Homo sapiens: one gene and its partners. The protein of the gene in region 3 purifies or fractionates together with the protein of the main gene of each other region. This does not show direct contact. Each region holds a gene or a part of one and is shown on either strand. Other genes may lie near its edges.

Region 1 (3,340 bases), on a different chromosome or scaffold from region 3:
AATGGCAAGATAAAGACGGTAAACTTAGATGTCCTGCAGGACTGCTCAACCAATGATACTGCTCTGAGATAAGTTGACATCCATAATCACAGAATTGGCCCCAGTCTTTCTCTGTCATGAAACTTGGCCCTCCCCAGACAATGAAAACATAAATATCACATCTGTGACAACTCTAGCATTTCTAGCAGGAAAAACAAATCCTGAAAAAGCATCAAATGCAGTGAATCTGACCACACAATGGTAAAATAGTTATTTCAATAAAGATTTTCATTTCAAAAAATGAATTTTTTTGTTGTTTCCACAATAATCAATTTAGTTATTGACAATGCAGGTCAGGCCTCATTCATGGCCATAACATAATCTCTGATCTTTCCAGTCCCTACAACACTACAAATTTTCACAGGATTATACATAGAATTCTAAAGCAAAATAATCCTAGAAAATATAAGTGGAAATAAAAATATATAATCAAATCAGATACACTTTTTTCATACACAATAAATCATTAGCATTTTTTCTTATAAAGGACAGGCTCACTGTAGAGTAGTATGCAGAAAAATATAATAAATAAAATAGATATCACAAATAATGTCATCTAATTTTTTTTCAGATCTTCTATGGTGTTTATATATACAATACTGTTGGTTTTATATTGTATACAGATCTGTTTCCTGTTATTACCACTTGATGTTATTATTGTGATACTTTCTTGGTATCATTAAACATTAGTAAACATTTTCTATCATGTTAGATACCATATTTTATTTAGACATTCCCCTGTTTTCAGGAATTTAGGCAATCATTTCTATTTTAAATCATGCTTTAATAAGCCTTTTAAGCATTTTTTTATTTTGGTCTAAACTTGGGGTCATTTGTGAGGATAAATTCACAGAAGAAGAAATTTTTAAGGCCTTTGATAGATGTTCCAAGACTGCTTTCCAGAATGTTTGTGGTGATTTATAGATGTCCTAAGAATATTTGAGGATATCTATGTCATGTACCTGCACTAACATAATTACTGTGTTTTAAAAATACTTTGGTTTTATTGTATCTTAAATAATTAATCAATAATTCTAAGGAAGCCTTATATCATAGGTGAGAAGGTTTGTTTGAAATTGGCAAGGAGCAAGGTACATGAGGGAGTTTGCATTGTCCACAGCCTTAAAGGTTCACTTCACACAGTAAATACTACAAAATTATCTGTCTTGGATTGTTTAGACATTCAATTGCTTGAATGTCCAGGGACAAACCACTTGATCTCTTCTAAGTATTTCATGTTAGGGTTTTTAGAAATAGCTTTTAACACAATTTTGATTGAAATAATTTTTCAGAAAGCCCATTTCACTTGTTAAGGCATTTCATCTTTAGCTGAATTTTAAGTATGCTATGAGATAAACCAGGAACAAGGAGACTTGATTCTCTATACCATATTTTATCGATTCTAAGACACACATTTTTCACATCTAAGCGTCTTTAGTATTTGGATGTATAATAGGCACTGCTAGCACTTTCAGATCCCTCTACCACTCTCATGCATGACAGCTCCCTGTGCTTTCACTCTCAACATTCAGCACCTGCACCTCTTTGTTGGACGGCTGTCCTCAGGCTACAGGAACATGCTTTGACTGCATTGCAGGCTGGAAGCACCTGGAAATTTACACCCACCCCCACCCCCACCCCCATTCAATAACTGATGGTGCAGAGGTATAAATACTCTGGGTTCTCTGGCCTCTGACTTGAACCTACTGTAGAACCTTTTTGTCTCTAGGGCTCTCCCGTGGGAGTGAACCAAAGTCATCTCCAGAATAGGCTTTGCTTGACATCACACTTTTTGTGGGTTTTTTTCCCCCTTTCCTTTGGATCGGTTCTATTTCTCTATTTCCCTATTACTTTTCACCCTTGGGCCACTTCCTAATTCACATAAATCCTTATGTCAGAGGAATTAAACATATTACAGGAAGTGTCTTACAATAATTGATGTCCTGCAGTTACTGTCAGCCAGGTGGTCATAGTGATATGGTTGTCTTTGCCTGTGCATGCATGAATTTGGTTGTTCTTTCCATGATATGACTGGACTGTTACTTCTTTACTTTTTGGTCAATAAACCATTTAAGGACTATTGAGAAGAGTATGAATCCTGATTGTTATCTAAAATTTTTCTATTAAGTCCTTTTGCCAAGATAAAAAATGTGCCAGCATCAGAGTTGTAGAATGGATGTCTAAGACAGGGAAAAAAATCTCAGAGACTGCAGTAGAATATTCCTTTAAGAAATGTTATTTATCCTGATGGCAGAGAGGGTGTTACCGTGAAAAATTGTGGTTTATGACAACTCTGATTCAAAAAAGAGATGCAGAAAGAGTTCAATTCTGAATGTACAGAGCTTTGTAAATATCATAATTAATATTTCATTCTCTTTTACACACATGATTTTTAAAAATCTATGCTGAAACAGTTCTCTTGTATTTACTTAAAGGCGTATAAGATAAAAATTCTAACTACTAAGTCATATTTTAAATCTTTTTTTCATTTTCAGTTACACACAAAATAATGATGGGTCTTATAACTGATGAAATACTAATTGGGAATATGGTACTTATAGAGACAGAAGAAATACAATCAATGAACAGTCTTAATTGGAAAAACTAAGGTAACTTCATAGACTTCTCACTTTCCATTTGTAGAGAGAGTTCTACTGGTAAATGAGGAACCACCAGTATTTGGTCATATTTTTGAAATTGTGTAGATTTTATTAAATATTTCTTATTCCTCCAATACGTGTGTGTGTGTGTGTGTGTGGTGTGTATATACACACAGATATATATATATACACACACACACACACACATATACTAAGTGTATGTGTGTGTATGTATGCATTCTATTTCCTTCAAATTTCCCTTATATCGAGTACTTTTATCAGAGAAGTAATCCATGCATTTAATTTGGTGCCAACTTCTTATTTTTGTGTGGTAATCACCAAAGAAAAATAAAAGCTGGCATTAGATTAAATGCATAGATTACTTCTCTGAATGATAAAACTGCCTAAAGAAATAGAATCTGCTCATAAACATCTTTTCATATTCCATTCCACAGAAATTTCTGACCTTACCTGTCTATATTACCTATTCCTATAAGGTAACTTTATTATCTACTCAATTTGTTTTGTCTTCCTGTTGTCTCTTCTCGTGTGTGCTGATGAAAGATGAATTTCTCCACTGTGAAACAGAACAGTCAAGCAATTCCAGTGGGGTTACTTATAGATGAGATAATTTCTGCAATTTCAGAGTTCTGTGGCAATACATAGCTCCCTTGTGCCAAATCAATTCTTCAGTAACATGA
Region 2 (3,656 bases), on a different chromosome or scaffold from region 3:
TGACGTCAAACTCAATGGATGAGTGAGCTAATCGCAGGAGAGACACACCTCCCTCTTCCTCATTCCACCCACACTCGAGGGGAGGGTTACACATGGCTGTTTCCCAGGGGCAGGGATCGTGTGGGCTGTCTTGAGTCCTGCCACCTTGTTACCAAACCGCCTTCCAGGAAGATGTGTGCCTCCACAGCAACGTGTCCGAGCCCCTGATCCAGAGTCAACTGATATTCTTTGGCCTCTCATAGATGTAAATATTTTTTTGAGCTTATCATTTGTTCTACAATTGTTTATAAGAGTTTGGGGAGAGGTTTAACATTTTAACGCAGTCAAATTCTTCAATATGTGTACTGTCTTTCCTTGCTAGGAAGCATAAATAGGGTCTTACTCTGTCGCCGGGGCTGGAGGGCAGTGGCACGATCTTGGCTCACTGCAGCCCCAACCTCATGGGGTCAAGGGATCCTCCTATCTCAGGCCCCTGATTAGTTGGGGCTACAGGCACACTCCACTACACCCAGCTAATTCTTGTCTTTTTTGTAAAAATCAGGTTTCACCATGTTGCCCAGGCTGGTCTTGAACTTCTGGGCTCAAGTGATCTGCCTGCCTAGGCTTCCCAAAGTTCTGAAATTACAGGCGTGAGCCACTGTGCTTGGCTCCCAAAGCGAACGTTTTATATAACTATAGTACCATTATCGACACGAGGAAATGGACTCCGGTACTATGAGTGTATGTACAGCTACGCCATTTAATCAATCACCACCAAAACCAACAATCCCATCTTCCTCCTGCTGCCCTTCAGACACACCCACTCCCTACCCCAACCCCAAAGCCCTGCCCTTCACAGACCCCCTCACTCCCTACCCCAACGCCAAGGCCCTAGCAATCAACAATCTGTCCTCCCTGTCTATAATTTTGTCATTCAGAGAATGTTACAGAAATGGAATCACGGCCGGGTATGGTGGCTCACGCCTGTAATCCTAGCATTTCAGGAGGCCGAGGCAAGCGGATCACCTGAGATCGGGAGTTTGAGGCAAGCGGATCACCTGAGGTCGGGAGTTTGAGACCAGCCTGACCAACATGGAGAAACCCCATCGCTACTAAAAATACAAAGATTAGCTGGGCATGGTGGCGCATGCCTGTAGTCCCAGCTACTCCGGAGGCCGAGGTAGAATTGCTTGAACCCGGGAGACCAAGGTTGCAGTGAGCCAAGATCGTGCCATTTGCACTCCAGCCTAAAAAAAAAAAAAAAAGAAATGGAATCATACAGCATGTGACCTTCTGGGATTGGCTTTTTTCACTCAGCATGGTATTTTTTAATAGCCAATAGAAGTGTTCCATTTCTCTTCTTTTTCAAAATTTTCTTGCAATTAAGTATACTCTACCTTCATGAAAATGTTACAGGCCGGGCGTGGTGGCTCACACCTGTAACACTGGCACTTTGGGAGGCTGAGGCGGGTGGTTCACAAAGTCAGGAGTTTGAGACCAGCCTGACCAACATGGTGAAACCCCGTCTCTACTAAAAATACAAAAATTACCCAGGCATGGTGGCGCACACCTGTAGTCTCAGCTACTCGGGAGGCTGAGGCAGAAGAATTGCTTGAACCCGGGAGGCGGAAGTCACAATGAGCCAAGATTGTGCCACTGCACTCCAGCCTGGGCAACAGAGCAAGACTCCATCTCAAAACAAACAAACAACAAAACGTCACAAAAGTGTTCAAACAGGCTGGGCGTGGTGGCTCACGCCTGTGATCCCAGCGCTCTGGGAGGCCAGGTGCGGTGGCTCACGCCTGTGATCTCAGCACTTTGGGAGGCCGAGGCGGGTGGATCAGCTGAAGCCAGGAGTTTGAGGCCAGCCTAGCCAACGTGGCGAAACCTCATCTCTACTAAAAATACAAAAAAAATTAGCTGGGCGTCATGGCGGGCGCCTGTAATCCCAGCTACTTGGGAGGCTGAGGCAGGAGAATCACTTGAACTTGGGAGGCGGAGGCTACAGTGAGTTGAGACCCGAGATCATGCCATTGCACTCCAGCCTGGGCAACAAGAAGGAAACTCCATTTCAAAAAAAAAAAAAAGTGTTCAAACACACAAGAAAATAGAATAGTGAATGAGCACCTGCACCTATAGAGCACTCAGCTTCAATCAGTATTTTGTTATCTTGTTCTTTCTTCGTTTTTTTCCTGAGTATCTTTTTTTTTTTTGAGATGGAGTCTCACTCCATTGCCCAGGCTGGAGTGCAGTGGGATGATCGTGGCTCACTGCAACCTCTGCTTCCTGGGTTCCAGCTATTCTCTTGCTTCAGCCTCCAAAGTAGTTGGAATTACAGGTGTGCACCACCACACCCAGCTAATTTTTTTGTATTTTTTGTAGAGACAGGGTTTCACCATGTTGGCCATGCTGGTCTCGAACTCCTGACCTCAAGTGATCCACCCGTCTCGGCCTCCCAAAGTGCTGGGATGACAGCATGAGCCACCATGCCTGGCATTCTGAGTATCTTTAAGGAATTTCAGACATATGATTTTACCCATAAATGTTGCAGTGTATTTATTAGATAGGGATTGTGTTTTAGCGTAACTATAATAGCATTCCCACATCTAAGAAAATTAACACGGACTCATCCTCAAATACCCAATCTGACTGTCTCAGGAGTGACGGAGCCCAGGTCTGAGAAAATTAACACTGACTCATCCTCAGATACCCCATCTGACTGTCTCAGGCGTGACTGAGCCCAGGTCTAGGTCGCTCAGATTTCCTTCTAACATCCCCTCCTTTTTTTTCAAGTTCTTTATTTGTGGTAGAATTTCCAACATTGTGGAATAAGGTGACTGTAAATCTGTGATGTTAGTTCTCTATAATGTTTGTATGTTTGTGAATTTTGTAATGCAAAAATTTAAGCATATACAGAAGTAGTAGGGGTAACAGTATAATACATCTATCTGTATTAGTCCGTTTTCATGCTGCTAATAAAGACATACCAGAGACTGAATAATTTACACAGGAAGAAGGTTTAATGGACTTACAGTTCCACATGGCTGGGGACGCCTCACAATCACGGCGGAAGGTAGGGAGGAGCGAGTCACATCTTACATGGATGGCAGCAGGCAGAGAGAGAGCTTATGCAGGAAACTCCCGTTTTTAAAACCATCGGATCTCGTGACACTCATTCACTATCACGAAAACAGCACAGGAAAGACCTGCCCCCATAATTCAATCACCTCCCACCCAGTTCCTCCCACATGTGGGAATTCAAAATGAGATTTGGGTGAGGACACAGCCAAGCCACATCAATATCCTAACAGCTGCCACAGTGATTAACTTATGGCCAAACTTTCTCCCCATCATGGCCCTTCTGTTCTTCTCACTACTGCTTCATAGTAACTTACCCCAAACCTCAGCAGTTTAAAACGATTTTCTTTTCTCTGGATTTTATGGGTTCAGGACACGTTTGGCAGGACAGGTATCACGTGTGGTTGTCCAGGCAGTTGGAGGCATGTGAAGACTCACTGAGACGTACAGGGAAGCTCTTGGGGCTGGACACTGATGCTGGCTCCCCCTGAGGTGCATGCCCCAAGCTGAGAAGACTCAAGGTTCCAGCCAGAGCCTGGAATCACTAAAGGCTTGTTTGCTCACAGGTCTGGCTCCTGGGCTGGAAGGGCTTAGGGACC
Region 3 (3,656 bases):
GATCCAGGGTTGGGCACATAACTTAGGCCTGACTAAGCAGAATAGCCCATACCCCGACCACAAGAACAGAAACATAACTCAAGTCAGTCCAAAAAGAGTCAGCCCCGGGATTTTTGCTTTTGCTGGAGCTGCTGGGACTGCATCTTTCTTGTTGCTGGTATTGCTAAGCTTGGAGTTGCTATGGTAACCTGTAGAATAGTCTACCTGAGAATGAAAACAACACATCTGGAAGCAGAGCCCAGAGACAGAGACAAATTCTTAATTTGAACACCCATATTTGGGCATTTCTGAAGCAACAGTACACCCTAGATTTTTTTTTTTTTTTTTTGAGAGAGAAAGTGGGACCAGGGGGCCATCACGAGTGTGGATGCTGTGCCAAGGCCCGGAGCTCTGGGAGCCCACACCATTTATTGATGATCAAACAAAGAAACAGGTGGTGAGGATGTGGGGGTTGAAAGGAAACAGTGTATCAAGTGAATGAGAAACATATGGCTGCTTGAGATAATGGGAGTGCTAGAAGCAAGGAGCCAGCAAGTCTAGCAGACATGCAAGCCCTGCATCAGCTTCTCTCCCAACACTCAGCTTTTCTCATTAAAATATCTTTTTTTTTCATATTTTAAAAGCATCTTTTTTTTTTTTTTTTTTTTTTTTTTTTTTACAGTTTCAACTATTTATTCAACACCTTAGTGAACATCTGCTCAGTGCGGGCATTATTATGTGTTAACTAGAGGTTTTTTGTTTTTGTTTTTGTTTTTATTGATCATTCTTGGGTGTTTCTCGCAGAGGGGGATTTGGCAGGGTCACAGGACAATAGTGGAGGGAAGGTCAGCAGATAAACAAGTGAACAAAGGTCTCCGGTTTTCCTAGGCAGAGGACCCTGCGGCCTTCCGCAGTGTTTGTGTCCCTGGGTACTTGAGATTAGGGAGTGGTGATGACTCTTAAGGAGCATGCTGCCTTCAAGCATCTGTTTAACAAAGCACATCTTGCACCACCCTCAATCCATTCAACCCTGAGTGGATACAGCACATGTTTCAGAGAGCACAGGGTTGGGGGTAACGTCACCGATCAACAGGATCCCAAGGCAGAAGAATTTTTCTTAGTACAGAACAAAATGAAAAGTCTCCCATGTCTACCTCTTTCCACACAGACACGGCAACCATCCGATTTCTCAATCTTTTCCCCACCTTTCCCCCGTTTCTATTCTACAAAACCGCCATTGTCATCATGGCCCGTTCTCAATGAGCTGTTGGGTACACCTCCCAGACGGGGTGGTGGCTGGGCAGAGGGGCTCCTCACTTCCCAGTAGGCGCGACCGGGCAGAGGCGCCCCTCACCTCCCGGATGGGGCGGCTGGCCGGGCGGGGCCTGACCCCCCCACCTCCCTCCCGGACGGGGCGGCTGGCCGGGCAGAGGGGCTCCTCACTTCCCAGTAGGGGCAGCCGGGCAGAGGCGCCCCTCACTTCCCGGATGGGGCGACTGGCCGGGCGGGGGGCTGACCCCCCCACCTCCCTCCCGGATGGGGCGGCTGGCCGGGCGGGGGGCTGACCCCCCCACCTCCCTCCGGGACAGGGCGGCTGGCCGGGCAGAGTGGCTCCTCACTTCCCAGTCACCCTAGATTTTTTAGTACTATAAGCCATTATATTTGGAAATGGAGAGAAAAAGAAGGCTTCAAAAGAAAAATTAGGAACAGAATTTTAGACCCTGGTGACTGCTTACATATGGGAAATAGAGAAGAGCGAAATGTCAAATGTCACTCTGACGCTCTGGCATGTTGAGTGAGTGGAAAATGCTATTAACAGAGATCAGAGGAGGGGCAGGTTTTGGTCAGTGGAATAAGCTTAGTTTGGAGATGCTAAAACGGATCTTACTCCTTGAATTCTGACTGTACCTGGATCACGGTGCCAGGAGCACTGAGCAGTACATGTACCTGAGCTGCAAGCTCAGCAGTAGACTGCATGGCCAAGGCAGTCTAGGGAGACAGTACACTGCATGGCCAAGGCGGTCTAGGGAGACAGAGCAATGCCAGAAAGACCATTCCTTTAGCAGTTTACCAGTCTAGTAGTTTGGGTATTTTTGAGACGAGTCTCACTCTGTCTCCCAGGCTGGAGTGCAGTGGCGTGATCTCGGCTCACTGCAAGCTCCGCCTCCCGGGTTCACGCCATTCTCCTGCCTCAACCTCCCCAGTAGCTGGGACTACAGGCGCCTGCCACCACGCCTGGCTAATTTTTTGTATTTTTAGTAGAGACGGGGTTTCACTGTGTTAGCCAGGATGGTCTCGATCTCCTGACCTCGTGATCCACCCACCTTGGCCTCCCAAAGTGTTGGGATTACAGGCGTGAGCCACCGTGCCCAGTGTAGTGTAGTAGTTTTACCAGGCAACCTCAAAATAACTGGCATTTAGGAAACGGAGGGAAAGTGAAGTATCATCCCTAAGCCCCAGAGCATCTGGCTGGAGTGATAGCTAGACGGAAAACAATAGGGAAGCCCATCACCTAAGCACACTACCGGGGAAGTGGGAAGCTAAGCCAACACTCTAGGTCCCAATGTGTTCAACTCGGATGAAGGAGCCACTGAAAGAGGAAGAACAAGTGATACCCTTGCAAACAGTCACTTGTGGGGGAGACCCTCGCCTTATTTCAAAAAAACTAGCAAGGGGTGGATTCGACATTTTTCCTACTTCCTACGTATCAGGCTCTCAGGAGCTTTATGCACATTGTTTTATTGAATCCTCAGAACTTCTCAGGCAGGAAAGCATTATTCTTCCTACTCAGGCAGGTTACGTAAAGTAACTTGATCAAGTTAAGCCAAATTAATCCGTGAACTAGGATTCAAATGCAGGTCTGACTTTAAAGCTTATTCACGTTTCATTATATCAACTACTTAAGGAAAATACACTGAAAAGTTTCATCCTTCATTTTTAAAATGACACTACCGGCTGGGCACAGTGGCTCATGCTTGTAATCCCAGTGCTCTGGGAGGCCAAGGCAGCAAGATCCCTTGAGGCCAGGAGTTTGAGACTGGCCTAGGCAACATGGTGAGACTCTGTCACTACAAAAAATCTGAAAAAATTAAAAATTAGCTGGGAGTGGTGGCACACACCTGTAGTCCTAGCTACTGAGGAGGCTGAGGTGGGAAGATCACCTGAGCCCAGGAGTTTGAGGCTGCAGTGAGCTACGATTGCACTATTGTACTCCAGCCTGAGTGACACAGTGAGACCCTATCTTTAAAATATATAAATAAATAAATAAAAATGATGCTATCTCATCAAGAAGACTGTTTCTGAACTGGGTATTTCATTGGCCATAGAAAGGTTATGTTTGCAGTAACCCAGTCACAAAGCCTCAATTAATAGGCACAAGGAATGTGTATTTACCAGTTGTGTATCTGGAGCTAAGGAGGCCATCAGTACCATGAAGCCTCATTAAACAACGCATTCTGAATTAATCAGCCGCCAACACAGTATGCCTATAACAATGACGGGAGTGACTTTGTGAGGATAACCCCACTACTAAAATTAAGTTTTGATTAAAGTTTTTTGGTTAAGAGGCAATCATAAAAAGAATAAAAGACGGGAAAAGATTCTGCAAAGGAGCTATCCTACTGGCCTGAATGACAGGCACAGAATGCTGTGAAATTTATTCACTATCTTATACTTCC

What was found.
Region 1: the proteins of RUBCN (region 3) and STXBP4 purify together in Homo sapiens (affinity purification with mass spectrometry; one large-scale study listed by BioGRID and IntAct). This does not show direct contact.
Region 2: the proteins of RUBCN (region 3) and SPATA33 purify together in Homo sapiens (affinity purification with mass spectrometry; one large-scale study listed by BioGRID and IntAct). This does not show direct contact.

Annotation. Positions count from the first base shown.
Region 1 is NC_000017.11:55,167,704-55,171,043, reverse strand, and holds part of STXBP4 (syntaxin-binding protein 4), read right to left. Parts: 3' UTR 1-3,340. UniProt on the Homo sapiens protein: Plays a role in the translocation of transport vesicles from the cytoplasm to the plasma membrane. Inhibits the translocation of SLC2A4 from intracellular vesicles to the plasma membrane by STX4A binding and preventing the interaction between STX4A and VAMP2.
Region 2 is NC_000016.10:89,660,830-89,664,485, reverse strand, and holds part of SPATA33 (spermatogenesis-associated protein 33), read right to left. Parts: exon of another isoform or gene 2,978-3,656; intron 1-2,977. UniProt on the Homo sapiens protein: Plays an important role in sperm motility and male fertility. Required for sperm midpiece flexibility and for the localization of sperm calcineurin to the mitochondria. Promotes mitophagy as well as acts as an autophagy mediator in male germline cells.
Region 3 is NC_000003.12:197,730,259-197,733,914, forward strand, and holds part of RUBCN (run domain Beclin-1-interacting and cysteine-rich domain-containing protein), read right to left. Parts: intron 1-3,656.